Linked DNA regions of Homo sapiens. The protein of the gene in region 7 interacts with the protein of the main gene of each other region in a biochemical or structural test. Each region holds a gene or a part of one and is shown on either strand. Other genes may lie near its edges. The genes, in order: PLCH2, GMDS, AXIN1, RUNDC1, LNPEP, HNRNPM and TNKS.

Region 1 (4,910 bases), on a different chromosome or scaffold from region 7:
GGCTTCACGCTGCAGCTGCGGTTCTGTGTCTGCCTGAGTTTTGGAGGGGAGTGGGCGGTCCCTTTGGACCTCAGGGCAGGCAGGGCAGCCCCCGGCAGAGGCCTGTGTCAGGAAGGGATTAGCCAGGCCTCCACCCGCCTGGACAGTTGAGGATTCCAGCTCTGCTGCTGAGGAGGTCAGGGGGCCTGGGGTGCAGGAGCCTGGGACCCACGTTGTGGGGCTGGGGCCAGGCACTCTATGTGTGGCTCCTCTCAGAACCCCTGCCCAGGCAGATGGCGGCCTCCAAGCCCTAACCCCAGCTGATGGGGGATCAGCTAGTGGCTGAGAGCTCAAGGGAGGGAGGGAGGGAGCAGAGGCCCAGCCTTGGGGAGCTTCAAGGAGGGATGGGTGAGAGACGGGAGCACCCCCAGCTGGGGCCAGGCCCAGGGTGAGGGAACAGCAGGTGTGTCCCAGGCCAGGAGGCCTCTGAGGTGCAGGAAGGAGAACTGGACCCCCTGGGTCAGAGTGGAAGCCCGCAGCAGCCCAGTATGAGGTGGGCAGGGGCCCTGGGCCAGGGCTATGGCCGTCTGGTCTGTCTCCAGGCCCTCAGGCCACCTCCTGGCCCCTGCGCTGCCCCTTACACGGTGGCCTTCCCCGAGGCCCTGTCTTCCTGAGGACGCCCGGGACTCCAGCCCCTCTCCTCTCCCTGCAGCTCATGGCTCCCTAATCTAATTCCACGGCAGAGCCCAGAAACGCCTGCTGACCTGCTTCCGCCGAGAGCAGCAGAGCCTGTGACGGGGCCCCTGGTGGGGGCCTGGGTTGGCTCTGTGCTGACTGCATCTGATCTGGCTGGGTGTGGCCCTGGTTGTCAGTGGTCAGCTGGAGACGCATGGCCATCTCCTCAGGGACTGCCACCTCCCACGCCTGACCTTGGCCCCGGGGCTCTGCCAGGATGCCCAGCCCTGGCACCTCCCTGTCCTGGGCTCTGCAGGCCAAACTCCTCCCCTGGTATGGGGGGAGGCGAGCAGCTGCCCGGAACCTTCCAGTCCTTGTTGCTGGAGCCAGTAGAGCCTGGGCAGTGGGTGGGAAGAAGGGCGGGGTTCTCCCCAGTGTGGTCACGAAGCATGGGCATGGCCAGGACACAGGTGGCTGGTGTTCAGCCGGGGTCTGCCCACCTCCCATTCCCACAGCTGCCCCTGGTGTCCCGGCCTGGACTTGGGGATGGGAGAGCCTGTGCTGTCCTGTAGTGCGGGGCCAGTACACAGGGTGGGCTGTGTGGTCCTGGTGGCAGTGGGACCTGGAGTCCTTTCCTCAGTGGGAGCTGAGACGGTGGGGTGGGTCCTCCTTGGGCGAGGCCCCTGTCCAGGTCAGATGGCTGTCATCCCTGCAGGGCAGAATGTGGGGACAAACGTGCCCTGGGCATGGGGCCACCTCCTCCGCCACAGCTCGGTGACCGTGGAGAAAGGTCAGGCTGGGGCTGCAGCTGCATGAGGGAGACATGGAGAGCCCAACCCAGGCTCAGGGACCCACATCCTGGGCCTGGGCTGGGAGTTGTCGCTGTAAGGGATCCGGCTCGGCTCCCCTCTCCAGCCACAGGGGCTGGGCGCTGCGGGGATGAGGTGAGCTTCTGCCCCTGCTCTGGGCCACCTGCCTCTGGACTTTGGGGATCCACTCAGAGGTCCTCATAAGTAGGGATGCGGGGTGAGGGCAGGGACCACTCCAGGCCCAGCCTCGGCATCTGTGGTGGGCGCACAGCGGGGAGGCCCACCCCACACAGGGTCCTCGGAGGACAGTACCCTGCAGGCCTTCCGGTTGCGTTCTCTGGGTCCCAGGAGGGCCCTCCCGTTGGTCCTGCTCTTGTCCCGCAGCCCTGACCTGGGTCTGGTGGCCTGGGGCCTTGGGAAACTCTGTTGCCTCCCCAGTGCCCTCCCATCCCCAGCTGGGAGTTCCCTCGGCCTAAATCCTCCACCAGCTGGGCTGGAGCTGGGATTAGCACAGGGATTGGGCCTGGGGCTGGGCGGGGCTGAGGTCCTTTGCTCCCCCAGCCTTGGGAGGCGGCTGCGTCAGGGATTCCTTGGTGGCCCTGGAGGGTGGATAGGCTGGCCTGGGGGCCATCAGGACAGCAGGTGACGGTCAGGCCAATGCCAGCCGGGCCTGGGCACAGCCCTGTGGGGGCTTCGGAGGGCCCTGAGGAGGAGGAGGAAGAGGCAGAGGAGAGAAGGCCCCACGGAGGTCCTGTCGCCAGCGCTGCCACTGCCTGACCTCCGCTGCCCGAAGGCCGGTGGGCCTCTGTGGCCTCCGTGAAGCAGGCCCGGCTGTCGTCAGGCCATGTCTGGTCCATGGCCCTCCCCCGACAGCCGGACCAAGGGAACGGTGGCCTGGCTGGCGGAGGTACTCCTCTGGGTTGGAGGGAGTGTGGTGCTGTCTTCAGAGTGGCAGCTCGGCCCCCTGGGTAAGAAGGGGCAGGCGAGTGGCCTGGGCTGAGTGCTGGCCCTGGCCAGGTGACTGGTGGGTGGGGGCTGTTCCTGGAGGTGGGGGAAGCCTGGGCCTCCATCCCATCCTGCACTCGCCTCCCCTGTCCCCCGGGTGCTCTAGGGATCATGTGGGTCCAGCAGCGTCGGCTGGCCCTGCCCCTCAGCCGCTCAGAGGCGTGCTCAGCACACCTCGGTCTCCCAGGCACCTGCAGGGCCTGGGGGCTGAACCCAAGGGGGCGAGGGGGGATCTCAGGTGGCTCCAATGCTCTCATTGAAGGGGTGCCTTGTGCTCTGGGGGTCAGTGGTGCTTGCAGCCCAGGCGGCTGGGCTGGCATCCTGGTGCCGGACATGAGGGCCTTTGCCGTTAGGAGACTCTGCAGAGGAGACTGGCTGGGTATGGCTGGGAGGGTGGAGTGTGTGTCTTGTGGTGGCCTGTGGAGGGCCCCGGTCCGGGCTGGCCTGCCAGCTCTCTGTTCCAGCGGCAGACAGGGTCCTGTCCAGGCTGCCCTGTTGCAGGCCTCTGCCCGCCCCCTGCCCCTGTGTCCTGCCTCACCCCTCTCCTAAATCCCTGCAGCCATACCTGCGTCTTCACCTCCCATGTGCCCCGGAGAGCCCAGCCCCCCATGCCATGGCTTCCATCCCTTCAATTCCCCTCTGCTCGTGATCACGTAGTAGCTTCCCCAAGAAGGCCCGGCCAGTACTGCCCTTGGTCCTCTACAACGCCCCCGCCAGGGTCCCTCAGCGTGCAGACCTGGGGTGGGGATTAACGTCTCTGTGCTTTAGCAGATGGTACCTCTGGGACCCGGGCTTTCTGTGAGCAGGTGTGCAGGAACCGAGGGGGTGAGACCAGTCTGTTCCTGGGCTGGGACAGCTGACTCTGGCCTGGACTCCCTGGACCCTGCAGCCCCCTCTCCTGGGACAAGCTACAGCAGGAGGCTGAATGGAGAGAGGAGGGGAGAGAAGGAGCGAGGCAGGCAGCCTGGGGGAGGGGAGGGGAGGGGTTGTGAAGCTCGGATCCGGCACCACAGCCTCCCAAGTCCATACTGCAGTGCAGGGCGTGCGACGCAGACATTCATGGCACCATTCGTGGCGCTTGTTGCACATGAGGGGTGGGGGCTTTCCTGGAGATGCCCCAGGCAGGGGCACAGGCACTCAGGAATTCGACCGCTCCCAGGAGCCACCTGTGGCCAGGGGCGGGGGCAGGGGCATGGGGTTGCTGCCTGCTAGGCCCACCCCGCCCCTGACAAGGGGCCTCCACTGCACTATGGCCCCAGACAGCCAGCCCAGCCACCTCATCTGTCTTGCCTCGTGCCCGGCCTTCCCATTGTTGAGTTCTGTGCTGGCTCCGTCTGAGTGGTAGCTCTCGGGGCCCCAGGCCCAGCGCCGGTTACCAGGGCTGCTAGGACTGGTCCAGGAGGTGGTGGGAGTGGCAGGTGGCCGAGCAGGGTGGGGAGCAGGGCCCTCAGTTCCCAGGACCATCTGGGGAGGAGTGGCAGGGCCCAGCTGAGCTGTGTGACCCAGGCAAGCCGGCACCTGGGGTGGAGGTGGCCCTGGGCTCTGGCCTTTGCCCTGTCACTGGCAGGGCGGTGTGGGCGGGGCCGGGCGAGGTGAGGAGTGGCCGTGCCTCCGCTGACGGCCGTGTTTCTCCCGTGAGGAGTGGCCGTGCCTCCGCTGACGGCCGTGTCTCTCCTGCGAGGAGTGGCTGTGCCTCCGCTGACAGCCGTGTCTCTCCCGTGTCCAGTGGAGCGGTGCATGGGTGCCATGCAAGAGGGGATGCAGATGGTGAAGCTGCGTGGCGGCTCCAAGGGCCTGGTCCGCTTCTACTACCTGGACGAGCACCGCTCCTGCATCCGCTGGAGGCCCTCACGCAAGAACGAGAAGGCCAAGAGTGAGTGGGAGCCCTGGGGTGGGGACAAATCAGAGTCCCTGGGGGGACACGACGGTAGGGACCCTCCCAGGGCAGCCACTGATGGCTGAGGAGCAGCGAGACCCTAGGCCTGGACACCTCTGGGCTCAGTGGCCTTGGGGATCTGCAGTGACCTCGGGCTGTGGGGTAGGAGGGATCCAGGCCCCCTGCCCGCCTGGCAGAGCTCCCTGGGACTCAGTGAGGACCGAGTAGCACTGTGCCCAGCCCTGTGCTGAGTGCTGGGCTGGAAGGAGGGGCACAGCATAGTCCATCTAGCTGGGGAGGTCACAGCTCCCCATAAACAGAAACGACCCCCACAGAGGTATGCTGATGGATGGGTATGGGTGCAAACAGTGGCTCAGGCAGCCACTGGGCATGGCTGCTGGAGGGAGCAGGGGCCACCCGAGATGGAGGCTCTGTGCAGGGGGTGGGTGGGGAGAGTTGAGGCACACAGGGAACGGGTAGGGTCCCACGGTTTGGGGAGAGACATGGCAGTCCTCAAGGGCTGGGATCAGGGCGCAGCCAGGGTTTCTGATGGCTTTGCTGATGGT
Region 2 (4,149 bases), on a different chromosome or scaffold from region 7:
AAAAACAAAAAAACAAAAAAACAAGTGATGATACGTGTACACAAAGGTGCCACAGCCAACAGAGTTAGAATCATCCCCTTAGGGGTGATGGGGAAGCAGGCATATTCTTCTTCAGGGCTGGAAAAATGTCCTTCTGAGCTAGACTTCTTCAGGCCAACTGAGACTAATCTATCAGATTAAACTTACTAAACATTCCAACAAAATCAAACCTACTATACTTCCCATGCCTATACATACAGGGAAATATAAAATGCCTCCCCCAGGGACAATGCCTAATTCATTCCATACTAAGCACCCAAATCCAGGTCTTATCATTTTGTTCTTCAAGCAAAAAGAAAACAAATGCAAAGCTGGAGCTCCCCATAGTCTGCATGGAGACATAAGAGGAAAACTGGGGCCAGGCACAGTGGCTGACACCTGCAATACCAGCACTTGGAGAGGTTGAGATGGTAGAATTGCTTGAGCCAAGGAGTTTGAAACCAGCCTGAGCAGCACGGCAAGACCCCATCTTAACAAAAAAAAAAAATACAAAAATTAGCCAGGCATAGTGGTGCACATCTGTGATCCCAGCTTCTCGGGAGGCTGAGGCCAAAGGATCGCTTGAGCCCAGGAGGTTGAGGCTCCAGTGATCTGTGTTTGCACTGCTGCACTCCAGCCTGAGCAAGACCCTTTCTGGAAAATAAAAAAAAATAAAAAAAATAAGAAAAAAAAAAAAAGAGGAAAACTGGTCTGTGTTGCCAATCTGGTAAGTTTCAGGAACAAGGCAAACAAATGGTGTTGGGAGCCAGTTCTCTATGGGTCTCTCCAGTTTCTGCATGTCTTATGAGCAGATTGCACTGACAGCTTTTATTGGCTACTATCTTTCCTGTACAGGACATCTGTAGATAGCATTTTAAGATAGCAATAGTGTTTCTCTCTGGAGCAGATGGAAGATTTGTTTGCTATGCAGAATAATAAAAATAATGTCTCCCTCAAAGCAAAGGCTGGGCAGGATTATTAGTTCCCTTATAAAAAATTGGGGTTTCCCAATCTCAGATTTTCTCAACTGTGGTGCATACCCACTGCATGGGCAACATCCACCTAGACCCACCCAGCCACCGTGTTACCCACATGGTCTTTGAGGGGCAAGAAAATACTATACAAACAGAGCTGTCACAAACATGAAGTTCATACTGCCTGCTGACCCAGGAGTGCTGTGTCTTCTGCCATCATCCGTGGAATTTTAAGAAGCTAACTTGTTAGCCTGCAAGTAAGGTAAAATCTCAGGCCTCCCACAATTCTTGACAAACAGGGTTTCTGCTGTCTTTCTCCTTGACTGGGTTTACTCCAACAAGCATATATGCCACACTTGCATTTTGTCCTGCAGGTCTCTTGCAACAAAGCTTCCATTTTGAAGGATTCCACTGTAAACTACAATAAACACGTTTATCAATATTGATCACCAAAAAATACTACTAGTGTCTGCATATACTTGCAAAATTCCAATTCATCATTTTTAAAGAACCGATGTAAAAATATAGTTCGAATAAAGCAATACTAAAAATCTAACTTTTGTGAAAAGTGATAGAAATACAGTACCATTCTAAGAAACATAGAAAAATCATGTTTTGATTTTAAAAGATTTCTAAAAGTGCCAATTAGAGGCTTTTTCACTCAGCATTAAGGAACATATTTTTGTTAAACATGATCAAGCAATTCATTTCACATTACAATCAAACCAAATGCTCAAGCATAATATATATATAATACAACCAAGCTTTGGTGGTTCATTTTCCCAAGTGTAATTAGTCAGTATAAAGAAATACTTTCTATAAATCCCTAGTAAATACCTTTATTTTTTCACTCTTAAGTTTAAAAGAACTTAGTATGAAGATCTGAGAAAGGATTCCCCTAGAATCACATGTGGTAAATTGTTTAAAAGGCACAGTATGAACAGTCTGAAACAAATGAAGTAAATACCCTTCAGCCAAGAACGTCACTGCATATAAAATCATCTAACCTCAAGTCTATGTAACTCAATTCTACATAAGTAAATGCCAAAATAATATCCTGGAAAGCTGAGTCATTTCAATGAGTAAATTTATATAAACAATTGGGTTACTACTTATGGTAAGTCACAAGATTTTGGCAGGAAAATTGCTTACTAGCTTGCCAAAGACTAGGTTTGGCACATTGGTGCCCCACTGCCAAGAACATTACTGATAATCAGCTTTCTATCCTATAGGATTACCTTTCAGACATGTTTTACTCACTCATTTCCTATGTATTAAGCTTATACAGGAATGGTTAATGCAACTGAGCACCTTACTTCTGGAAGTGTGAGATTCCCAAAATTCCTCAAGAAAGGAAGAAAAGCATGAGAAATTGTAAATTGGAAGTTTGGAAGTACCTTTTTTTTTTTTTTTTTTTTTGAGACAAAGTCTCGCTCTGTCACCCAGGCTGGAGTACAGTGGTATGATCTCGGCTCACTGCAAGCTCTGCCTCCCGGGTTCAAGCGATTCTCCTGCCTCAGCCTCCCGAGTACTTGAGATTCCAGGCGCCCACCACCATGCCAGGCTAATTTTTGTATTTTTAGTAGAGATGGGGTTTCTCCACGTTGGCCAGGGTAGTCTTGAACTCCTGGCCTCAGGTGATCTACCCACCTTGGCCTCCCAAAGTGTTGGGATTACAGGCATGAGCCACCTCGCCCCGCCTGGAAGTATCTTTAACATTAGGAAATGCAAATAATCAACAAATAAATAAAGGAGAAAGAAAGGAGAAAACTGAAATATACTAAGAATAGCCTGGTTAACATCAATCATGAAACTAAAGGGAAAGTGTTAATTTTCATGCCTTCTAAGTAAGAGCTACAGAAAGTTCTGGGAGACAGGGAAGAAGACTGGCTAAAGGTACAGCACAGCAGCATGGCCACCTTTAGGACTTGCCCACTCTACAGCAGCCACCTCTGAGCACTTTTAAGTCATTTTTAAGACAAAGAGGCCAGGTGCAGTGGCTCACACCTGTATTATCAGCACTTGGGAGGCCAAGACCAGAGGATTGCTTGAGGCCAGGAGTTCAAGACTAGCCTGGTCAGCTGGTGAGATCCTGTCTCTACAAAAAAAAAAAAAAAATAGTAAAAAAATCAGTCAGGCTTGGTGGCAGCTACCAGGGAGGCTGAAGCAGGAGGATCACCTGAGCCCAGGAGTTCAAAGCTGCAGCGAGCTATGATTGCACCACTGCACTTCAAACTCCAGAGGAACAAAATAATTCACTGTCTTCCCCCAGAAAACTGATTTTCCTTCCCAGTGGTTGCATTTCTGGCCATACTATTACCATCCAACCTGTCACCAAAATGCATTTGCATCCTTGATCTCATTATCCTCATACTTTTACTATTCTCATTCATCCTACATACCCCTAACTGCATTCCCAAGCACTTCTCCATCCTTCTCTCATTCCTTCCCACTGTGAGAACTTATTCATAATAAATAAGAACTATCACTTCATAAACACTACATGCCAGGAACAGTGATAGGCCTTATTATAATATAATCATCATTTGTAATCCACACATCAATTTGTGATGTGGGCATAATTAACTCCATTTTTCTACCCAAGAAAAACCCAAGAATTTAAAACTCCTTCCTCTATCCTAATTTCCCTGATTTGAACTTTACAAACATGTACCAAAATATCACACATACCCCATAAATATGTACAATTATTATGTACCAGTTAAAAAAAAAATCGTTCCTCACCAAAAAGTCACTTCATTCATTTGATATGTCCTACAAAGATGGACAGCTCCAAGTTTTCACTCTATCCTTACAAATTCTGACAACATACAACTCATATGAATTTCTTCTTAGTTTACAAACTTAATTTCAAATTCAGTAAAATTAATAGTTCATTGGTTTCATTTAAAAAAAAAACTATCCTGGCCGGGCACGGTGGCTCACGCCTATAATCCCAGCACTTTGGGAGGCCAAGGTGGGCGGATGACTTGAGGCCAAGAGTTCAAGACCAGCCTGGCCAACATGGCAAAACCCCAACTCTACTAAAAATACAAAAATTAGTTGGGCGTGGTAGCGCACGCCTGTAATCCCAGCTACTCAGGAGGCTGAGGCACAAGAATCACTTGAACCCAGGACACGGATGTTGCAGTGAGTG
Region 3 (4,149 bases), on a different chromosome or scaffold from region 7:
TGATCCACTGCATGATTTTCTGGTTCTTCTCCGCATCCTCCGAGGCACCTGGCACCTCGGTGCTGGCGCTCTTCCCCGACTCAGCCTTCTTGGCATTTCTTTTGCACGCCACGCCCACCTTCCCACTGCAAGGGCAAGAGCTGCGAGTCGCCCTGGCCTCCGGTGGCCGAGGCTGTGCCCCTTCCTCGTCTGCGAGGCCCCCTCCTGGCATCTGTAAGGCTCCCGTGGTGCAGCCGCCGCCCGCTGTCCCCTGCCCGCTTGTCCCCCACCCGCTGTCCCCCGCCAGCTTGTCCCCCACCCGCTGTCCCCTGCCCGCTGTCCTGGTGCTGTCTGGGGGTTGGTTTCCTCTCTAAACACACAGGCAGTCACTGCTCACCCCCTGAAGACTGAGGGCCAGAGCGGGAGCCAGGGTCGGGCTGTGTCCCCTAACCTTCATCTCCCACCTGAGGTCACGGCGTGGACTCCCCTGACCCAGGGCCCAGTCCACTCCCTCCAGCAGAGGGGCCTCCTGCCTGTTGCTGGCGGTCCTGGGTTTCCTGAGTTTTATGAGGAGGTTCTGGCCTTCTGCAGGGACACAGCCTCACCCCAAGCCCCCTCCTCACTGACAGGCGCACGCTCACCTGTGGGCGAGGCCATCACTGGCGTTGGGGGCAGCGCCAACACTCTCTGAGTAGCCTCGGGACCTTGCCCCATGGCTGTGTGGTTCCAGGCCCCAGGCGAAGCTGCTCTGGGCCCTGCGGGTGGCCTCGGCCTCCACCTGCTCCTTGGGCCGGGCTGTGCTGTGGTGGACGTGGTGGTGGACGTGTCGGTGGTGGTGCAGGCCGGCCGCGTCCAGCTTCGCCCCTGACTTGGGTACGTGCTTCCCGTGCCCCGAGGCGGCACCCCCCAGTGCCACTGGCATCTTGGCCACGTGCCCACTGTCCGGGGAGCGATGGCCAGGCCCAGGCGACTGGCGGCCAGGTGTCCTCAGCACACGCTGTACGTGCTCGTCCAGGATGCTCTCAGGGTTCTCCTCGTGTGCATCCCGGAGCCCGGCACAGCCCATGTCCACACAGCGGGGCGGGAAGTGGTGCCAAGCGGGGGCGGGAGGCAGCTTGTGACACGGCCCTGGGGGCCCTGACGATGGATCGCCGTCCTCACCTTCCTCCTCCTGTGTGGGGACAAGCAGCACCATCACCTCTCAGCACCAGCTGCACACTTGGGGAAAACAAAAAGCATCAGGCCTGACCCAGCAGCCCCAGCAGATGCCGTCCCAGCCCAGGGTGGCCGGGGGCCCCTCGCCACCGGTCCTGTCCCTGAGGATGGAGAGGCAGGACGGGGCATAGACAGAAGGAGCGGAGACAGCAAGGCCTCAAGGAATGCAGCGTATGTATCGGCTGTGGGCAGAGCTCTGCACAGATTTAGTTTAGTTTTATTCTTTTTTTGAGACAAGTTCTTGCTCTGTTGCCCAGGCTGGAGAACAGTGGTGTGATCTCAGCTCACTGCAGCCTCCGCCTCCTAGGCTCAAGCGATCCTCCCACCTCAGCCTCCAGAATAGCGGAGACCACAGCCGTGTGCCACCACGCCCAGCTAATTTTTTTGTACTTTGGGGACAGATGCGATTCTCACCATATTGGCCAGGCTGGTCTCGAATGCCTGAGCTCAAGCAATCTGCCTGCCTTGGCCTGTATATATATATATTTTTTGAGACAGAGTCTTGCTCTGTTACCCAGGCTGGAGTGCAATGGTGCCATCTCGGCTCCCTGCAACCTCTGCCTCCTGGGTTCAAGTGATTCTCCTCCTTCAGCCTCCCAAGTAGCTGAGACTACAGGTGTGCGCCACCACACCCAGCTAATTTTTGTATTTTTAGTAGAGACAGGATTTCACTATGTTGGCCAGGCTGGTCTCGAACTCCTGACCTCATGATCCACCCACCTCGGCCTCCCAAAGTGTTGGGATGACAGGCATGAGCCGCCGCGCCCGGCCTCCCATTATATTTTAAGGAGAACCTTGTACAGAACGGCTCTTGGGTTATGTACATGTTGTGATGCTGCCTGACGAGCTTCCACATGAAGCCGGTGGAGTTTCACTTGATTCTCCAAGTTAACAGGTGCTGAAGCTTATCTGTCAGAGCAAACATTTGATCACTTTAATTCCAAGTTGCATCTCATACTTATTTTCTCATCTTATTGGACTGACAAACTAAAACAGTATTGAGTAAATCTGGTGTCAATACAAAAGAAAGAGAGGGAACTAAGTTACCATGTATCTATGTATGTATTTATTTATTTAGAGTCAGAGTCGCTCTGTCAGCCAGGCTGGAGTGCAGTGGCACGATCTTGGCTCACTGCAACCTCCACCTCCCGGGCTCAAGCAATCCTCCTGCCTCAGCCTACCGAGTAGCTGGGATTATAGGAGTGTGCCACCATGCCTGCCTAATTTTTTTGTATTTTTAGTAGAGACGGGGTTTCACCATGTTGGCCAGGCTGGTCTCAAACTCCTAACCTCAGGTAATCCACCACCCTCGGCCTCCCAAAGTGCTGGGATTACAGGAGTGAGCCACCACAACCGGCCTATTTATTTTCATTTTTTTGAGACAGAGTCTCGCTCTGTCACCCAGGCTGGAGTGCAGTGGCACGATCTCGGCTCACTGCAACCTCCGTCTCCCGGGTTCACACCATTCTCCTGCCTCAGCCTGCCCAGTAGCTGGGACTACAGGTGCCCGCCACCACGCCCGGCTAATTTTTTATATTTTTAGTAGAGATGGAGTTTCACCGTGTTAGCCAGGATGGTCTCGATCTCCCGACCTCGTGATCTGCCCACCTCGGCCTCCCAAAGTGCTGGGATTACAAGTGTGAGCCACCGTGCCCGGCCTATTTTTATTTATTTAATTTTTTTTTGAGACGGAGTTTCACTCTTGTGTCCCAGGCTGTAGTGCAATCTCCGCCTCCCGGGTTCAAGTAATTCTCCTGCCTCAGCCTCCCGGGTAGCTGGGATTACAGGCACCCACCACCATGCCCAGCTAAATTTTTTGTATTTTTAGTAGAGACTGGGTTTCACCCTGTTTGCCAGGCTGGTCTCGAACTCCTGACCTCAGGTGATCCACCCACCTTGGCCTCCCAAAGTGCTAGGATTACAGGTGTGAGCCACCACACCTAATCGCAGTGGTGCCATCACAGCTCAAGGCAGCCTCAACCTCCAGGGGTCAAGCGATCCTCCTGCTTCAGCCTGCCAAGTAGCTGGGACTACAGGTGCATGCCACCATGTCCCATTAATTTTTTCTTTTTCTTTTTTTTTTGTAGAGATGGGGAATCTCACTATGTTGTCCAACCTGCTCTTAAATTCCTGGCCTCAAGTGATCCTTCTGTCTTGGCCTCTCAAAGTGTTGGGATTACAGATGTGAGCCACTGTGCCCCACCTACCTCTATATTTTAATATAAACAAACCTCCCAACGTTTAGCACCCAACTCTCACACCTGCAAAAGTATCCAAATGCAACTGGAACAGGCGTGCCCCAGAGCTGGTGTGGGCTTGGCTGCGGGCACCTGCACTGGGGCTGAGGGTGAAATATGGCACTAAAGAGGACAGACGGATGCTGGAGCAGAGCCGGGGGACAGGTGGGTGGTGGGCATCCCCTGGCGGATGCAGCTATGCTGCCTCCCTTTCCTTGGTTTTGTAGGACTAAAGGGCCCGGGCACTCTGGGGAGAAATCTTAACCGAGGGTCTTCCTAGGGACTAAAAGTGTTTGGAGTTTTGATGCCGTTCACTGCCTTGGCCGAGCTCCACATCGGCAGGAATTCTATCATGGGGCTGTGAAATGTTACAGATTAACTTAACCACTCGGCTAATGGTTTTTGTTTTCTTCTTTGTGCTTTAATTTCCCAAATTTCACAATGAAAATAGGTTATTTAAAAAATCTGGAGTTCACGCCTGTAATCCCAGCACTTTGGGAGGCCGAGGCGGGTGGATCACAAGGTCGGGAGATCGAGACCATCCTGGCTAACATGGTGAAACCCCGTCTCTACTAAAAATACAAAAAAATTAGCCGGGCGTGATGGTGGGCGCCTGTAGTCCCAGCTACTGGGGAGGCTGAGGCAGGAGAATGGCGTGAACCCGGGAGGCAGAGCTTGCAGTGAGCTGAGATCGTGCCACTGCACTCCAGCCTGGGCG
Region 4 (4,149 bases), on a different chromosome or scaffold from region 7:
CCTTTTTCTGGTTAATAATAGCTGTATTGAGATATAATTCACATACCATATGATTCACCCATTTAAGGTGTTTAATTCAGTGGTTTTTAGTATATTCAGAATTGTATAACTGTCACTGCAATCAATTTTAGAATATTTCATCCTTCCCAAAAGCAAATCCATACCATCAGCATTTCTCATTCCCCTCTTCTCCTCAACACACCCAAGCCCTAGGCAACCACTCATCTACTTTCTGTCTCTAGAGATTTGCCTGTTCTGGAAACTGCACTTACTTTTGCTGTTTCCTGGAGGCGTTCTGCTGCTGCCTGTTCTGCTGCAGCCATTTCCTGTCTTCCCACCGGCCTTGCACTCACAGTGTCCACCACCTGTCTGCAAGGGGCTTCCCACTTCATCTGGAATCAGAAATTATAGAAGAGACACTTATTTAGCCCTTTATGGCAGATCTTTAAAGGAAAAATAATACTTAATGGTGCCTATTAGAAACAAGAATTTCACAAACTCTTGTCCTATTTAATTGTGTAAAATGAGGACTGGCATACAGTAGTTGGCTCAATAAATATTTGCTAAGTGAATGAACCATGAATCATCATTTTATGGATGACAAGAGAGACTGAAGAGTTAGTAACATGCTCAAGGACATAAAACCAATGAGTATGAGAGTGGAGATTTTAACTATCTGATTTTGAAACCCATGCACTTTCTACTCTGCCAATGCTGCCTCCCCTACTAAGCCATCAAGCCTCTTAAATAGTACATCAAGAATTGGCACCTTTTGGCTGGGCATGGTGGCTCATGCCTGTAGTCCTGGTACTTTGGGAGGCTGAGGCAGGCGGATCACTTGAGGTCAGGAGTACGAGACCAGCCTGGCCAACATGCTGAAACACCATCTCTACTAAAAATACAAAAATTAGCTGGGTGGGGTGGTGGGAGCCTGTAATCCGAGCTACTCAGGAGGCTGAGGCGGAAGAATTGCTTCCATCTGGGAGGCGGCGGTTGCAGTAAGCCAAGATTGTGCCACTGCACTCCAGCCAGGGGAACAGAGAGAGACACTGTCCCCACCGCCCAAAAAAGAACAAAAAACCAGAATTAGAACCTTTTTACTAGTACTTAGAATAAGTATAATTATTATGACACCTGTCCACCCTTCTCATCCCATCCCCTCCTCTAACCTTGGATGAAGTTGATAAACATCTCAAGGTCTCGGATCTGAGTTTTCAGTTGCTCAACCAACTGTTCTTTGACTCGGGCTGGGTTGACGATCTGAGCCACTGCTGCATCTACACGCTGACGAAGCTCTTCAGTGGACAGGGAACTGATGTCCTCATTCAGATTCATGTCCAGTTTCTTTATTAACTCATCTATGATCACCTACCAAGATCACAAGCAATGAGCACACCCTTTGGAATTTTTAGGGAGAGGGTTAGGAAGGAGAATCTAAAAATGTCTTCTGTCCTTAAATGGAAATAAAAAACAGACCTCTAAATTTGTGAAAGTAAATGACTTAACTGCTGATTGATCAAGGTGAGGACATAGACTCTCTACTTTTAAAGTAAAAAGAACCCTCAGTTCTCTGATAAAAATGGATCCTCCCACTCACAGTAAATTTCTACCAGGCTAGTCAGATTTCACTCAGGAAAACAACAGTATGAAAAATCCAAAGTGGCTGATGATCCAACAAGCCTTATATTTAGTTGCTCTAAAGGCTTCAAGGAGAATATATACTGATTTTTAAGAGACAGGGTCTTGCTCAGTCACCCAGGCTAGGGTCCAGTAATGTGAGCGTAGCTCACTGTAACCTCAAACTCCTGTGCTCAAGCAATCCTTCTGCCTCGGTCTCCCCCATAGCTGGGACTATAGACACACGCTACCACCTAGTTAATTTTTAAATTTTTTGTAGAGACAGGGTCTCGTTATGTTGCTCAGGCTGGCCTCAAACTTCTGGCCTCAAGAGATCCTCCCACCTCAGCCTCCCAAAGAATTGGGATTACAGGCACGAGCCACTGCAACTGGCCTGATTTTTCTTAATTTCTAATCCTTCTTATCCCTTCTTGCCCTACTGTAGGCAACTAAAGAAAAATCTCTATAAAATATCAAGGTGCATTATAGCCAAAATATCCTAGTGACATTATTAGGAACAATTTAAAATTCTGATAATAGGCTGGGTGCGGTGGCTCACATCTGTAACCCCAGCACTTCGGGAGGCCAAGGCGGGTGGATCATTTGAGGTCAGGAGCTCAAGACCAGCCTGGCCAACATGGTGAAATCCCATCTGTACTAAAAATACAAAAATTAGCTGGCCATGGTGGTGGATGCCTGTAATCTCAACTACTCGGGAGGCTGAGGCAGGAGAATTGCTTGAACCCTGGAGGCGGAGGTTGCAGTGAGCCAAGATCATGCCACTGCACTCCAGCCTGGGTGACAAACTGAGACTTTGTCTCAAAAAAAAAAAAAATCTGATATCGTAAACTCCAGCCCAGCCAGAAAAACAGCCACAGCACAGGGGTAGAGAAACATGCAGGGGAGGTTGTAACTGTATCTCTACCAAGAGATTTACCTGTCTACCCAGGTCTTACCTAAATAAATACAGTATTAAAGTCAGTCTGGATTCCTGGCATGTTTATCAAAAGGTAGTGAGTAGTAGGAAAAAGCTAGATTACGGCCAGGTGCGGTGGCTCACGCCTGTAATCCCAGCACTTTGGGAGGCCAAGGTGGGCAGATCACCTGAGGTTGGGAGTTCGAGACCAGCCTGACCAACATGGAGAAACCCCATCTCTCCTGAAAATACAAAATTAGCCCAGCATGGTGGCGCCTGCCTATAATCCCAGTTACTTGGGAGGCTGAGGCAGGAGAATTGCTTGAACCCAGGAGGCAGAGGCTGTGTTGAGCTGAGATTGTGCCATTGCACTCCAGCCTGGGCAACAAGAGCAAAACTCCACCTCAAAAACAAAATAAAACAAAACAAAAAAGCTAGATTACATTGTATGATGGGCCCAAGTAGAATTTTTTAAGTGATCAAATGAAGAAATTATTGTTATATTCTTATTTCTATTATTAATTACAATCACCAAAAAGAAATAGCTCAATTATCGTATTACAAAACTTTGGAATCTGTGTTTTCCATGTGTGAGCAAAGAAAGGTTCCTCATAGCAGTAAAATTTCCCTTTGATTTGGGCCAGCAGAGGGATTCTCAGTAAGGCCAAAGGAGAACTGAGCTGAGAGAGGATGCCCTGTGAATGCTGGAAGGGACAAGTTAACCTCGGGCAGTGGTGGAGGTTCCTCTGGGGTCTGCTCACCCGCTGTCTTTCCAACACCACGGACTGTGGCAGCGAGTCATAACTGCCCTCTTGATAGGCAAACGTTTCCAGGTCATCTAGCTGGGTCTTGAGCTGCAGTATCAGTTCTTTCTGCTTCTCCCTTTGGGTTTCCAGACGCTCTTGCTTTTCCTGCTCACTCTAAGGCAAGAAAATAATTGGGTCTATTATGCAGGCAAAGGGAAACTCAGGGCACATTAAGAATCTGCTCGAGCCAGTAATGACCAATAAAATATAAGATGTTTCCAATAATCCAAATGAAATACACAATTCATACGATAGATTCAAAAGTAAGAATAATTATTTCATCCTAGGCAATTTGTCAAATGGGTGTTTTCTTTAAGAAACTATCTGTCCCTCATTGGAAATAGGATATTAATACAATGAGGCTTTTTGTTAAGACTGCCTTTTTTCCCCCAAAGGTCTAGTTAGGGTAGAGACAATCTATCTCAGCCAAGATAGCCTCCCAGGAATTAAGACATGCCATTCTCCACAGCCAGTTACCATAACACAACTCCTGATTACTCTGTGCAGCCAAATTTTGCAAAAGAATCTGGGGTAAGGGTGTGGAGAGAGGCTTTAAAACTCATAACCAGCTGGCCGGGCCCGGTAGCTCACGCCTGTAATCCCAGCACTTTGGGAGGCCGAGGCGGGTGGATCACGAGGTCAGGAGATTGACCATCCTGGCTAACACAGTAAAACCCCGTCTCTACTAAAAATACAAAAAAAAAATTAGCCGGGTGTGGTGGCGGGCGCCTGTAGTCCCAGCTACTTGGGAGGCTGAAGCAGGAGGATGGCGTGAACCCGGGAGGCGGAGCTTGCAGTGAGCAGAGATCG
Region 5 (4,149 bases), on a different chromosome or scaffold from region 7:
CACCGTGTTAGCCAGGATGGTCTCGATCTCCTGACCTCGTGATCCGCCCATCTCGGCCTCCCAAAGTGCTGGGATTAAAGGTGTGAGCCACCGCGCCCGGCCATACAGAGGTATTTTTCAATATGCATAGCTAAATGGTTGCTATGAAATAGTCTGTAGCCACGCTGAGCTAAGTAACCTGGTGCCAAGCAAGGCTAGGCTTAATTAGAACTTAGATGGAATGCTACTGTTAAATGATTCATGCTATGGAATTATGTTAACAAATGTGAAAATTTCCGGATGTTTCAGTTAAACTGTCATGGAAGTATTTTTCCTCTCACAGCAAATCCTAACTTCTGTGAGCCAAAACACTGGGAGCTTTTTTCAAATGCACAACTTGAGAATACTAAAAGTTAATAATTCTCTGAGAAACTTACTTCTGTACAAGCTTATTCCAGTTCTCTTTGACAAAATCCCATGCCAGTAAGTGTCCAGGAAAATGTCGACCCACTGTTCTAATGATAAAAGACAGCTTCTGTGTTCGGAAGTTATCTCCATTCAGGCTACTTTTCATTAACCTGAAGAGCAAAGCAGATTTAGCCTCCAAAATTATTATTCATGAAGAAGTGATGACTGAACTTAAATTAAAATTAGTATGGTTTCCTAATTAAAGCTGTGTAGCAAATTGAGAAATAACTGTTGCATTAGTCTACGGTTGATCTATAGATTGAAAATGTCATTTTTTTTAAATGAAGAAAGAACTCACCAATAAAATAGGCATTTACCTATATTGTCACATGACAATAAATAGTTTTTAAATAGTAAAAACATTTAGGAAATAAGTTCTGGTAGAATTTATTACAATTCGGGAGGTGGGTATTTTTTTCTGGTAAAAACCTTATTTGATTTGAATGGGCAGGTTAATTATATTACTATTCTTAAAAAAAACTAGGTCATTTGAATTATTTGAAAATTAGGATACATTTCAGAATATACTCTTATTAATGTTCGTAGCAAACATTTACTGACACTATGTACTAAATAATGTTCTAAGTCCTTGACACAACAATGCTATAAAGTAGGTATTTATTAATACTACCTAACTCAATTTTATAGTTGAAGAAACTGAGGTTATCTAATTGACCCACAGTCACACAGTAATAAATACCAAAGCCCGACATCTGAACAAAAGCAGTTCTCATCTACTATGCTATACTATCTGTTTATAGTGAGAAACCACGCCCCACTCCAAGACTGTGGCAGTATTTTTAGGAGAGAAAAAAACAAAAGCCCAACAAAACGTGATGGATTAAATAAATTATGATAGGGCCATACTACAGAATATTATGAACCCATAAAACACTTTAGTTTTTTTTTATATATAAAGCAGGCTTCATGAAGTGACATGGAAAATCTCATAGACTGATCATTCACTAAAAAGATGGTCACAAAACACTGGGTATGGTATAAACCTAATATGGTTTTTAAAATGCAGTTAAATATGTAGGTATGTGTGTATGTATGTACGTACATATGTACAAATATCCATTCCCACAGATGAATACAAAGACCAGGACTGACACTGTTGTTAACAGAGAAAACGAGAATGGAAGTGAAGGATCATGAGAAATACTTTCATATTTTACTCTATATTCTTAGGTACTGTTTAAATTCTTTATCATGGGCATTCTTAGTGTATTACTAGCATAGTTTAAAAACAGTGATTTTTCTCTATTTGCTTAAGTCAGAGGCTGGCTAATACTTTAAAGAAAATGACTATTTACAGCGTATCTTTTGGTAAGTGGGTCTGGACAGGTACTGAGGACATCTCTGGGACACTATTAAGATTTATCTGAGCAAAATCATACAACAGAAGTAATGAGACCCAGAAGCCTCCTTCTATCCTCAGTGCGACTTCTAACACCTGTGCTCTCTACAGCAGATACCTCTATATTCCTCTTGGCTATGTAGAGCTCCTCTACCCCACCACTGCCTGTTCTTCCTGTCAGGAGGCCCTACTTACTGCCCTACCTTCATCCATATGACACTCCTACTTCTGGGCCTTCATCACTACATATTAAAAAGGAAAAGTCTGACAAATAAATTCATATGAACGTAGAACCTAGAAGGTTTAATATGTGATTTTTTTTTTCTGAAATGCCTACATTTTTAAAATGACAGCTTGCACAAAGCAATGCCTTGGTCCTAAACTATGGAGTACCAATTGTGGTGTATAAGACAACATTCCAAGGGGAGGAAGACTTTTTGAGCAAGGAGTAGGAGGGGGCTGTGACTCCTGACATCTTGTAATCCCTTTTGGGCAAAGGATTTTCTGCTTGTCCATAAAGATAAAGCCCAGCACCTGTAGTCTCCTCACCACACTGTCCAACTTAGGCCTGGCCTGTAACAGAAGTGGGGAAAAGAGATCCCCTCAAAAATGAGCTCCTGACCAAGAGCACAGTGTTTGTATTCTTTTGGTTTCTGTATATCATATTCCTCGGTGATTTCATACCAGTAAAGCTTCCGCACATCCTCTGAGCTGGCAAGTGCTTCTAGTATTTTGTTCTTCTCTGCTTCAGAGCCTATAGAAATGTATTTGCCCAAAAGGAATGACCAGCCTTTGTCAGTTTTTGCTCCAACTTTGAACACAGTTGTCATGACATCAGTAGGTAGGCTGTAAGAGAGGTGGTCAAACATGAGAATAACAAGAAAATATTCTGAATACAAAGGCGAAGAGTTGGCTGTGGTGGAGTTTCTGGTGTGAGGGTTGGTAATAATAACAAGTTTGAGTACACAATTTAGGGTTGAGAAAAAGTTTAATTCAGTGACTGCTATCTTCCTAGTAGTGTGTCTATGGATACATCAGTTCAATTTAATATTCACAGAGTACTCACAAAGAACCAGGCAGGCGACTGGCTGGACACTAGGGAGCGGAAAAGGAATGAGAGCCTCTGTCCTCTGAGAACTCACAGGCTACTACGAAGTATAGAGCAATAACTATATGCATTACAATTCAGTGTGATAAGTTTCATGGTAGAACTATAGCAGTAAATGGGGTGCAGGGAGAAAACACAGTCTACTGCCTTTATTAAGATCTCAGAGCTGGGAAAGACCTCAAAACGTTATCCAAATCCTCCACCCCAACTCTTCATCTGATGCTTGAATCTTCTCTCCATAATGCACGGTAAGGAGCTGGAGAGAACTAATTACCCCCAAAAGCTTTTCTGTTAACTGCTAACTCTACCTGCTATGTTTTATTTCTAAATTAAGAGACTTGTTTATCACCTCACACCCATTAGGATGGCTGCTATCAAAAACCCAGAAAATGGCAAGTGTTGGCAAGGATGTAGAGAAATTGGAATGATGGTGCAGCTGCTGTAGAAAACAATATGGCAGTTCCTCAAAAAATTAAAATTAGAATTACCATATGATCCAGCAATACTACTTCCAGGTGTATTTCCAAAAGAATTGAAAGCAGGGTCTCTAGGAGATATTTGCACACCAATGTTCATGGCATTATTATTCACAATAGCTAAAAGGTACAAGCAGCACAAAGGTCTATCCAGGAATGAATGGATAAACAAAATGTGGTATATACATACAATGGAAAATTATTCAGCCTTTAAAAAGAAAGAAATTTTAGCCAGGTATGGTGGCTCATGCCTATAATCCCAGCACTTTGGGAGGCCTAGGTGGGCAGATTTTCTGAGGTCAGGAGTTCAAGACCAGCCTGGCTAACATGGTGAAACCCCGTCTCTACTAAATATACAAAAATTAGCCAGGTGTGGTGGCGGATGCCTGTAATCCCAGCTACTCCGGATACTGGGGCAGGAGAATCAATGGAACCCGAGAAGTGGAGGTTGCAATGAGCTGAGATCGCGCCACTGCACTCCAGCCTGGGTGACAGAGCAAGACTCCATCTCCAAAAAAAAGAAAAGAAAGAAAGAAAGAAATTTTAATGCATGCTACAACATGGAAGAACCTTGAAGACGTTATGGTAAATGAAATGAGCCAGTCACAAAAAAGCAAATTCTATATGACTTTACTTATATGAGATATACAGTGTAGTCAACCTCACAAAAACAGGAAGTAGAATAGTGGTTACCAGGGGCTGGTGGGGAGAGGGAGTGAGGAATTATTCAATGGGTACAGAGTTTCAGTTTTGCAAGA
Region 6 (4,149 bases), on a different chromosome or scaffold from region 7:
CGAATTTCTGTGCAGATGTCTAGTGTGCACTGCTAGCCCACATGGGACTAACCAGTATCTTCTGAATTAGAGTGCAGCCTGGTTTTCATTCCCTTCACAGGTTCTGATTCTTCCTTCCCCAGGACACTTTCAAAATGCCTAACCACATCCTCTACATCCTGGTATTACAATCCTAGGATTACCATGAGGTAATCCTAACAATATCCTCAAGTTGTGAATCTCTGCTCATTTCTCACCCTGAAAAATCTATAGAAAAGAACTGGCCAAGAGAACTGAGGGCTAACCTGGCACAGGTTCAAGTGAAACCATATGGTAATTTTCTGTTTATTAGTGTAACTCCAATTCAAACTCTCAGCCCTAATCACTGAAACACTTACGGGGAAGTTGTTGTGGACGCTCAGGAGGGAAGAAATCTCCTTTTGGTAAGGCCCTCTCATCCTGAAAGAGAAAGAAAACAAACAAATCTCAGTATCCAGTGCAGCAGTGTTTGCAACAGCAAAAGACTGAAATGGCCCCCCATCAAGAGAGGACCAGCTAAACACATTATCCACGCCATGGAGTAATACGCAAGGGTAGAAAGGCATGCGGAGCATGCTTCCTATTTTATGTCAAGGGAAAAGACACATGGATATTATTGTGGGGGATGATGGGGACCTGGGCAAGAAGTCCAAGTAGGACTCACACTATCTTCACACTACCTTTTCATGCCTTTTGACTTTTGAGTCACGTGAATCTATCATCTATTCAAAAAACTTACCTACTCTATTTAGAGTAATGAAAAAATTGCTTTATAGTTTATCTTTTTCCTGAATTTGAGTCCCAACTAGACTGCCCTCAGCATGTTCCAGTCATGCCTGTAGTAATTATTATCTTTGGCACAGTTACGGCAGAGCAAATGTTTATTAAGATTGAAGTGCTCCAACAGACCTTTAAAAGCTGTCTGAATCAATGACTTAATTATGTTCACAACAGATTTGATGCTAACCAAACATTATACTGTAATACTTTGAAAAACTGGAACCCCACATATATAACCATTCTTTGAAACGGATCACTTGCTCAACCAGGATACCCAGGTGACTTCCTGAATGCGCCATGAACAGTCAACTGTGCAAAAGGAAAAATATCTAATGCAGTCAAGAGCTGCCATGAGCAAAATGTTTTTTTTTCTTCTTTTTTTTTCTTGAGACAGAGTCTCACTCTGTTGCCCAGGCTGGAGTGCAGTGGCACGATCTCGGCTCACTGCAGCCTCTGCCTCCCACGTTCAAGTGATTCTCCTGCCTCAGCCTCCCGAGTAGCTGGACTACAGGCGCGTGCCACCACGCCCGGCTAATTTTTGTATTTTTAGTAGAGACGGAGGAGTTCCACCACGTTGGTCAGGCTGGTGTCGAACTGCTGACCTCATGATCCGCCTGCCTCAGACTCCCAAAGTGCTGGGATTACAGGCGTGAACCACCACGCCTGACCAGCAAAATGTTATTTCTCTCACAATTTTGCTCAACATACTGCACCCTATTTAACTTAGACTAATCCACAAATATTTCATAGTGGCTATATGTACACTCTTATTAATTCCATGTTTTTGCTAGACTTGAGTATATCACAGAGAAAGATCCTACTGACTTACCATCTTGACGTGCATTGGTCTATCAAATAGCAGCTGGCCATTGAACATAGCTGGTATTACAATTAAGGCTATTTCTTGCAATTCTAAAAATGTGCACAAGAGAAATACAAAAAGAAAGAAAAATACTCCAACTGCTACCAGTCCCTCTAAGTGATGAATTTATGAGCAATTTCAATTCTTCATTATACTTTCAACAATAAACATAAAAGGAACAATAAATAAAGCTGGCGGGGAGGACAAGACAACTTCCGCTTATTCCTTAGGTGTGAAGCTTCATTCGTAACCTTACAATTTCACCAAACCATCCTCTTAAGCAGTGGCATCAAGGTTCTCTGAATGTGACCAATGGGCCAGGCATCTACCACTATCTAAACTGAAGGACCATGTTTTCTGGGTAAGACATGCAGTGACGGTCTTGTCTGAGTTGTATGAATGTGCTCCTGTGGGGTACTCTCCAAGGGATTAAAAACTCTAGGCTAAGCCTAGGGTCAAGGAGAAGTGGCCTCTTCCAAAATGATGTCTACTCACTGGAAAGAGTGAGGTCCTATAAGGATGTATTACACATGAAACAACAACCCCACTTTCTCTCTAGTAGCACATTCTTTGGACTTCCTCCTTCAAACCTAGACTCTTCTGAAAAGAAAACAGTAGAAAGACTCATGGGCATATGCCCATGTTGTAACCATCCCCTCTATCCACACTGTATTGAATCAATTCCACCCCCAGAGAACCTTTTTTTTTTTTTTTTTTTTTTTTGAGACTGAGTCTCACTCTATCACCCAGGCTGGTGGTGTGCAGTGGCGCAATCTCGGCTCACTGCAACCTCCACCTCCCGGGTTCAAGCGATTCTTGTGCCTCAGCCTCCCGAGTAGCTGGGATTACAGGCACCCACCACTGCGCCCAGCTAATTTTTGCATTTTTTAGTAGAGCCGGGGTTTCACCATGTTGGCCAGGCTGGTCTCGAACTGACCTCAAGTGATCCGCCCGCCTTGGCCTCCCGAAGTGCTGGGATTACAGGCGTGAGCCACCGTGACCGGTCCGGCCCAGAGAACCTCTTAATTCCACAGTAATGCACTCCCCCTAGTCACATAAAAAACATGAATACACACAGTCACCTCTTCCTCACACAAACCTACATTACTAACACAGCAATTTAGGTCAAACTGTTCATAAGTTGAATTCCTGCAGAAGGATACATATAGCTTGCACAGCTTCAATGGACTGTTCAAAAGTAACAGTGCCTATTCCACGACTTTTTCCATCTTTATCTTCAAGAATGTCTGCTCGGACCACCACACCAGCCATACTAAATACTTCCTTCAGTTTCTTCCAGCCAACTTTATAATCCAGCTAATCGAGAGAGAACGGGGTAAAAACCTCAATGTAAACATCTTAAGAAACACAACATTTTTACTACATGAATGATACATGCTTTGGTTGGAAAAAAGTATTAGGAAATAATGTCACAAAAACTAATCAACTGCAATGGAAATTTTAAAATAGGATTATAAAGCCTGGCCTTCACTGTAAATAAACTGTACCTATAGTAAATATATTGTCTCTTTTCTCAGAAACTTAAGTCACCTCATACTTCAAATTAATACTCATTTTCTGAACATTTTTAAAAAATTGTTTCCCTGATAAGCTTTACCACTCCCCACCCCACCCAACCTACTTTATTCTAAAAATATTTCCCCTTGCAGATGGTGGAGGTATTATCATTCACCCCAGACACAACAAGAGGAAGGTGTCAGTGCACTTCTGCTCGTACAGTCTTACTCTGCACCAAAACTGCATAAAATAAACCAACGGAGAATGCAGACTCGGTTACTGCTTGCGGAAACACCTGCGAAACTCAGGAATCACAGCCCCAACGAGACCACGGTCAAGCCTGTGACTTAGGAATGCAGACAAAGCCCGCCTATAAGGCTGATTTTTAAAGAAATCAAGAACAAAACCCTTCTTTACATTTTTCTTCTCAAATGTGAGAATTACTTTTATAACATATTGACAAGGTCATTTCATAAAGTTCTGATTTTCTACTTTAGACGATGGTTCTGTTTACTTACATTTGCTACAAATACTGTGCTTCCAAGTCTTCCAGCCTGTAATGCATGGATAATCTCATTTGGGATGTTGGGATTATTTAGGATACTGGGTGGGATAGTAATCATTCCTGGGCCACCTGGTCCCATACCCATCCCACCAGTCGTAGCCATCACCTTTTGCATTGCTCTCCTGGCATGTTCACCATCAGGATCCTAAAACAAGCACAAAAGGTGTTACGTTTAACTGACCCAGTACAACGCAAACCATGCTTGCACAGTAAATGATATTCTCAAGACTTAGAAACTGAAAGGTTGTTTGGAAAGCATCTCTCAAATCTATTAACAAGAAAGTCAAATGAACTCAACTACCAGCTTAGAAGAGTCCAGCTAAAGAAATAGGAAAGGAAGAAAAGGCATGAAGTGTAGCACTAAAAACACAGCTCTCAATTGCACTAAGTAAAAAAGAAAAGCAGG
Region 7 (4,149 bases):
TATTATATACCCCATATTTATCTGCTTTCATAAATTAACATAGGATAACAGTTATATTTTTCTGTTGTTAAGTCTGTGTATTTTGGGGCTGGGGAGAAGGAGGAGGCAGACAACTTTTGATAGCTTGCTCAAAGTTTCAAAAATTTATCCAAAAAGTTTTCTTTTTCCAAATAAGAATATTTTCCTGCAAAGAAGAAAAACATAAGTTGGTACCTCAAGACATTAGAAAAAAATAGCTAAGATGTATTAACTAAGTGTAATTCTATGTCATTTCTTTTGAAAATACCAAATTTCCACAGTCAACATGAGAATAACCCAAGCATTTGGAAGAGGAGACCTGCACATCTTATTAACATGACTGATGAGAATGTCAAAATGGTTTCTACGGTTGATGAGTATTATCAGAATGAGGGCATCAGAACTTTTCAATGTCTACTTACTATGTATATAATATATATGTCAACATATAATTTGACATATATAATAAGTTATATACATGTAGACACAAAAAAGTGTGTATACACACACTTTAACAAGGCATCAGGGAGTTTAGTTTATTTTTATTTTTATTTATTTTTATTTTTTTTGAGACGGAGTCTTGCTCTGTCACCCAGGCTGGAGTGCAGTGGCGTGATCTCGGCTCACTGCAAGCTCTGCCTCCGGGGTTCACGCCATTCTCCTGCCTCAGCCTCCCGAGTAGCTGGGACAACAGGCGCCCGCCACCACGCCAGGCTAATTTTGTGTGTGTGTATTTTTAGTAGAGACGGGGTTTCACTGTGCTAGCCAGGATGGCCTCCATCTCCTGACCTTGTGATCCGCCCTCCCAAAGTGCTGGGATTACAGGCGTGAGCCACCACGCCTGGCTGGTTTAGTTTATTTTTGAACTAATGACACAGAGACTATAGCTTTAAGGTTTTTTGAGTCAATCAGTAAATTTAAAACAAATTTTGTTCAGTTTGGACTTGTAGTTCATGGAAATCATCTGCTAACTACCAAATGCTTCCTCACTTTAAAAGAAAATATACCAAAGAAGAAAAAATAAACAAGTCCAAACATCTGCCACCTACCAGCAGTTTAGTTTGTTCTACTGAAAAGGCAAAAGGGATAGAGAAAAAATTTTACATCACGTTATTTTCCCTCTTCCAAAACCAAAATAAATAAATAAATAAATAACTTGTCTAAATTGAATGGGGAGCTGACACACTCCAAAAAACAGCTTAAAAAAAAGTTTACCCTCACGCTGCTTTAATTCTATAAACAGATACCTGAACAAACTGGCAAAACAAGATTCGAGAAGAGAACTCAGTAACTCGCTCTGGTGAAAGCAAACTTAGACATCTGATGAAGCCTTAAAAGAAAAACAACGGGCACACAAAAACAAAACACCTAAAACTTTCCTCAATTACTTGAAATCAAAGTGATTTTTTTTTTTTAATGAGCCCCGGGGTTATCCTGAGCTCCTAGGCTTTAGTAGAAATCCCTAGGAAACCCACCCTACTCATTTTTTCTTGAAGATATAATGCTTTTTATTCACCAAGAAACTGAAAGTCCATTTCTGAATGTTTCTTTCTCGTGTATGTTTCATTGGTTTTATTAAGCCCCGTAAGGGGAGGCTGCACCTAGCCCTCAGACTCCAACCCATCTTATCTTAACTAATCCTATTCAATTCTTACTATAAGTATCTATTAATGATGCATGGTATTAGGTGCCTCAAGAGCAGGGCTACACCAAAACTTAGCTATCAGAAGAATAAACATAAGCCAAAGTAGCTTCAAGGACAATGACATGGGGAAAAATAAAAAGGTAAGAAGCAACTGCCTTCAATTTTATCTACTGCAATATTTTATAGTAAGCTACCCAAAGATTCTTTGTCTATGACACAAAAGGAGGCTGTTAAAAATATTAAAGACTAAACTACTATAGTGTTTTCTCCCTCATGTCATCACAGAGCTCATGTTTATTCCTTTCCAAAACCAAACCTAACATTACAATAAAATTTATTTTCTCAGAATTATTCACATTCCTTGATTACTTTTCTTCTGGATTCTAAGCTTGAGATTTTTTTTTTTAACATATTTATGCTCACAACTCGACCTTTGATGATATGCCTCCTATCCTCCCAATGTATTTCTCTGGCCTGTTAACTGTCAAAGAATCACTTCCCGTCAGGAAAGAACACCTGGCCTGTGACCTATTCAATTCATTGATGGGGTAGGGAATGCTTTACAGGTGACTGGACTACACTTACCAAAAAGACTAAATAGTAATCTATCAGGAAGAGACTTTATCTATAAAATGCCCTTAGCACAATGTCTCCGGTTAAGGTTCCTGAAAAAATGTCTCATAGGTTATATAAACAGAGGTATAAAATGATGATGTTTCATAATTTAAATGCTACTACTGTAAAAGATGATCCTGCAGACCTTACTGAGAGACTTGATCTATTCTAGGCCAGAGCTGCAGGTGTAGCACAACAAAAAGGGACAGGGGGGATTACCTTAACTATCTCAGACCTTTATTTTTATCCTTGAAATTATTTAGTAATTAATTTCTGTAAAAATGAGCAACGAAAGTAACTGAGGTCAAATACATACAAAATTCTTACAAGAAGAATTTGGAGAATAACATCCCCGCAGACAATTAATACCTAACAGAAAAAAATGCCCACAAAGCAGACAAAATTATAATCAATTATTTTAACACTAGCTAAAAGAGAATACGAGAATGATACAAGATATGAACGTATAGCATGTGCCTGAGTTAGAAATAAAAGGAGAGAGTTCAGAAAATAATTCAAAATAAAAGAAAAAATAATTTCAAGAAAGGACTACAAAAGAAAGAACACAAAATGGAAAAAATGCCACATATAATGCCTTATAACAGAGGTCAGCAAACTACAACCCATACACCAAATCTGGCCCATCACCTATTCTCATAAATAAAATTTTACTGGAACACAATCACACTCATTCATTTACATATAGTCTATGGAAACTTTCACAGTATAAAAGCAAAACTGAGTAGCTATGAGAGGGACCATATGGCTACAAAGCCTAAAATATTTACTATCTGGCCATTTACAGAAAGTTTCCAACTCCTGCCTTAAGAAAAATAGAAGATGAAAGGAGAAAAAAAGTTAATAAAAAAAGAAGATATATATTTTTTAATAGGATTCAAAAGAAAGTGACAGTTATCAGGGGTTTGGGGGCAGATAGACATAGTTTAATGGGTACAAGAGCTTATTTAAGATGACAAAAAATGTTCTGGAAATGGACAATGGTGATGGCTGCATAACATGGCGAATGAACTTAATGCCACAAAACTGTACACTTAAAATGGTTAAAATGGTAAATTTTACATATATCGTATTAAAGAAATGGAGCAAGTAACAAATTTAGAAGAGGCAAAGTTTCAATATACATAAAAAGAAAAGAACGAATAATAAAAAGTATAATTTGAGAAACTTTTCTGAAATAAAAGATCTGAAACTATGTAAAGAAAAGCCATACCACATACCTGAGAAAATCTATCTAGAGAAACGAACACCAAGACATACTGTAATAGAATATCTGGTCTTTAATGGAAGAGAAAAAAAAAATCCTTTGCCCATCTAGAAAGAAAAAAAAAAGGCTAAGGGAAGGAAATTCCCATTCTCATCAGACCTTCAACATTAACAGCTCTTAGCAGGTCCTTGAAAAATAAAAGTTTAGGTATGGAAGAAATGATGGCCAGATGCAACATAGAAGAGGTAAGTAAAAACCCTATAGTTCTGAGTTTGAATTGGAAGTATCAATATTAGTTAATGAGGTAGATTAAAAGACACAGATTGTCAGAATGTCTTAAAAAGCAACACTCACATATATACTGTCTATAATAGACACACTTTAAATATAAAGGCAGATTGATTGAAAGTGAATGAATAGAAAAATGCCACACACAGCATAAGAATACTGAAGTGGATATAGTCACATCTGATAAAATGTAGCTAAAATCATAAAGATTTTCATAGGATATGTATGAGAACTTCTATGACTTGGGGCCAGATAAAAGTTCTTATCCAGGTGATGAGTCAGAGAAAGCAATAACCATAAAATAAATATATAAATTAAATTTAAAATTTCTATTCAAATGACTCTCATTAAGAAAATT

The links.
Region 1: the proteins of TNKS (region 7) and PLCH2 interact in a test that uses a peptide from one of them, tested with the Homo sapiens proteins (one large-scale study listed by BioGRID and IntAct).
Region 2: the proteins of TNKS (region 7) and GMDS form a complex in vitro, tested with the Homo sapiens proteins (one study listed by BioGRID).
Region 3: the proteins of TNKS (region 7) and AXIN1 form a complex in vitro, tested with the Homo sapiens proteins (2 studies listed by BioGRID).
Region 4: the proteins of TNKS (region 7) and RUNDC1 interact in a test that uses a peptide from one of them, tested with the Homo sapiens proteins (one large-scale study listed by BioGRID and IntAct).
Region 5: the proteins of TNKS (region 7) and LNPEP form a complex in vitro, tested with the Homo sapiens proteins (one study listed by BioGRID).
Region 6: the proteins of TNKS (region 7) and HNRNPM interact in a test that uses a peptide from one of them, tested with the Homo sapiens proteins (one large-scale study listed by BioGRID and IntAct).

Annotation. Positions count from the first base shown.
Region 1 is NC_000001.11:2,474,282-2,479,191, forward strand, and holds the start of PLCH2 (1-phosphatidylinositol 4,5-bisphosphate phosphodiesterase eta-2), read left to right. Parts: upstream 1-2,007; 5' UTR 2,008-2,307; coding exon 2,308-2,431; exon of another isoform or gene 2,432-3,239; coding exon of another isoform or gene 3,240-3,423; intron 3,424-4,194; coding exon 4,195-4,341; intron 4,342-4,910. UniProt on the Homo sapiens protein: The production of the second messenger molecules diacylglycerol (DAG) and inositol 1,4,5-trisphosphate (IP3) is mediated by activated phosphatidylinositol-specific phospholipase C enzymes. This phospholipase activity is very sensitive to calcium.
Region 2 is NC_000006.12:2,235,129-2,239,277, forward strand, and holds part of GMDS (GDP-mannose 4,6 dehydratase), read right to left. Parts: intron 1-4,149. UniProt on the Homo sapiens protein: Catalyzes the conversion of GDP-D-mannose to GDP-4-dehydro-6-deoxy-D-mannose.
Region 3 is NC_000016.10:297,102-301,250, forward strand, and holds part of AXIN1 (axin-1), read right to left. Parts: intron 2,104-4,149; coding exon of another isoform or gene 2,083-2,103; exon of another isoform or gene 1,910-2,082; intron 1,198-1,909; coding exon of another isoform or gene 1,174-1,197; exon of another isoform or gene 1,159-1,173; intron 1,151-1,158; coding exon 621-1,150; intron 126-620; coding exon 1-125. UniProt on the Homo sapiens protein: Component of the beta-catenin destruction complex required for regulating CTNNB1 levels through phosphorylation and ubiquitination, and modulating Wnt-signaling.
Region 4 is NC_000017.11:42,986,560-42,990,708, reverse strand, and holds part of RUNDC1 (RUN domain-containing protein 1), read right to left. Parts: intron 3,454-4,149; coding exon 3,295-3,453; intron 1,369-3,294; coding exon 1,170-1,368; intron 393-1,169; coding exon 273-392; intron 1-272. UniProt on the Homo sapiens protein: May play a role as p53/TP53 inhibitor and thus may have oncogenic activity.
Region 5 is NC_000005.10:97,023,025-97,027,173, reverse strand, and holds part of LNPEP (leucyl-cystinyl aminopeptidase), read right to left. Parts: intron 2,654-4,149; coding exon 2,492-2,653; intron 558-2,491; coding exon 417-557; intron 1-416. UniProt on the Homo sapiens protein: Release of an N-terminal amino acid, cleaves before cysteine, leucine as well as other amino acids. Degrades peptide hormones such as oxytocin, vasopressin and angiotensin III, and plays a role in maintaining homeostasis during pregnancy.
Region 6 is NC_000019.10:8,465,063-8,469,211, reverse strand, and holds part of HNRNPM (heterogeneous nuclear ribonucleoprotein M), read right to left. Parts: intron 3,889-4,149; coding exon 3,697-3,888; intron 2,978-3,696; coding exon 2,824-2,977; exon of another isoform or gene 2,598-2,823; intron 1,711-2,597; exon of another isoform or gene 1,678-1,710; coding exon 1,628-1,677; intron 439-1,627; coding exon 378-438; intron 1-377. UniProt on the Homo sapiens protein: Pre-mRNA binding protein in vivo, binds avidly to poly(G) and poly(U) RNA homopolymers in vitro. Involved in splicing.
Region 7 is NC_000008.11:9,562,295-9,566,443, reverse strand, and holds part of TNKS (poly [ADP-ribose] polymerase tankyrase-1), read right to left. Parts: intron 1-4,149.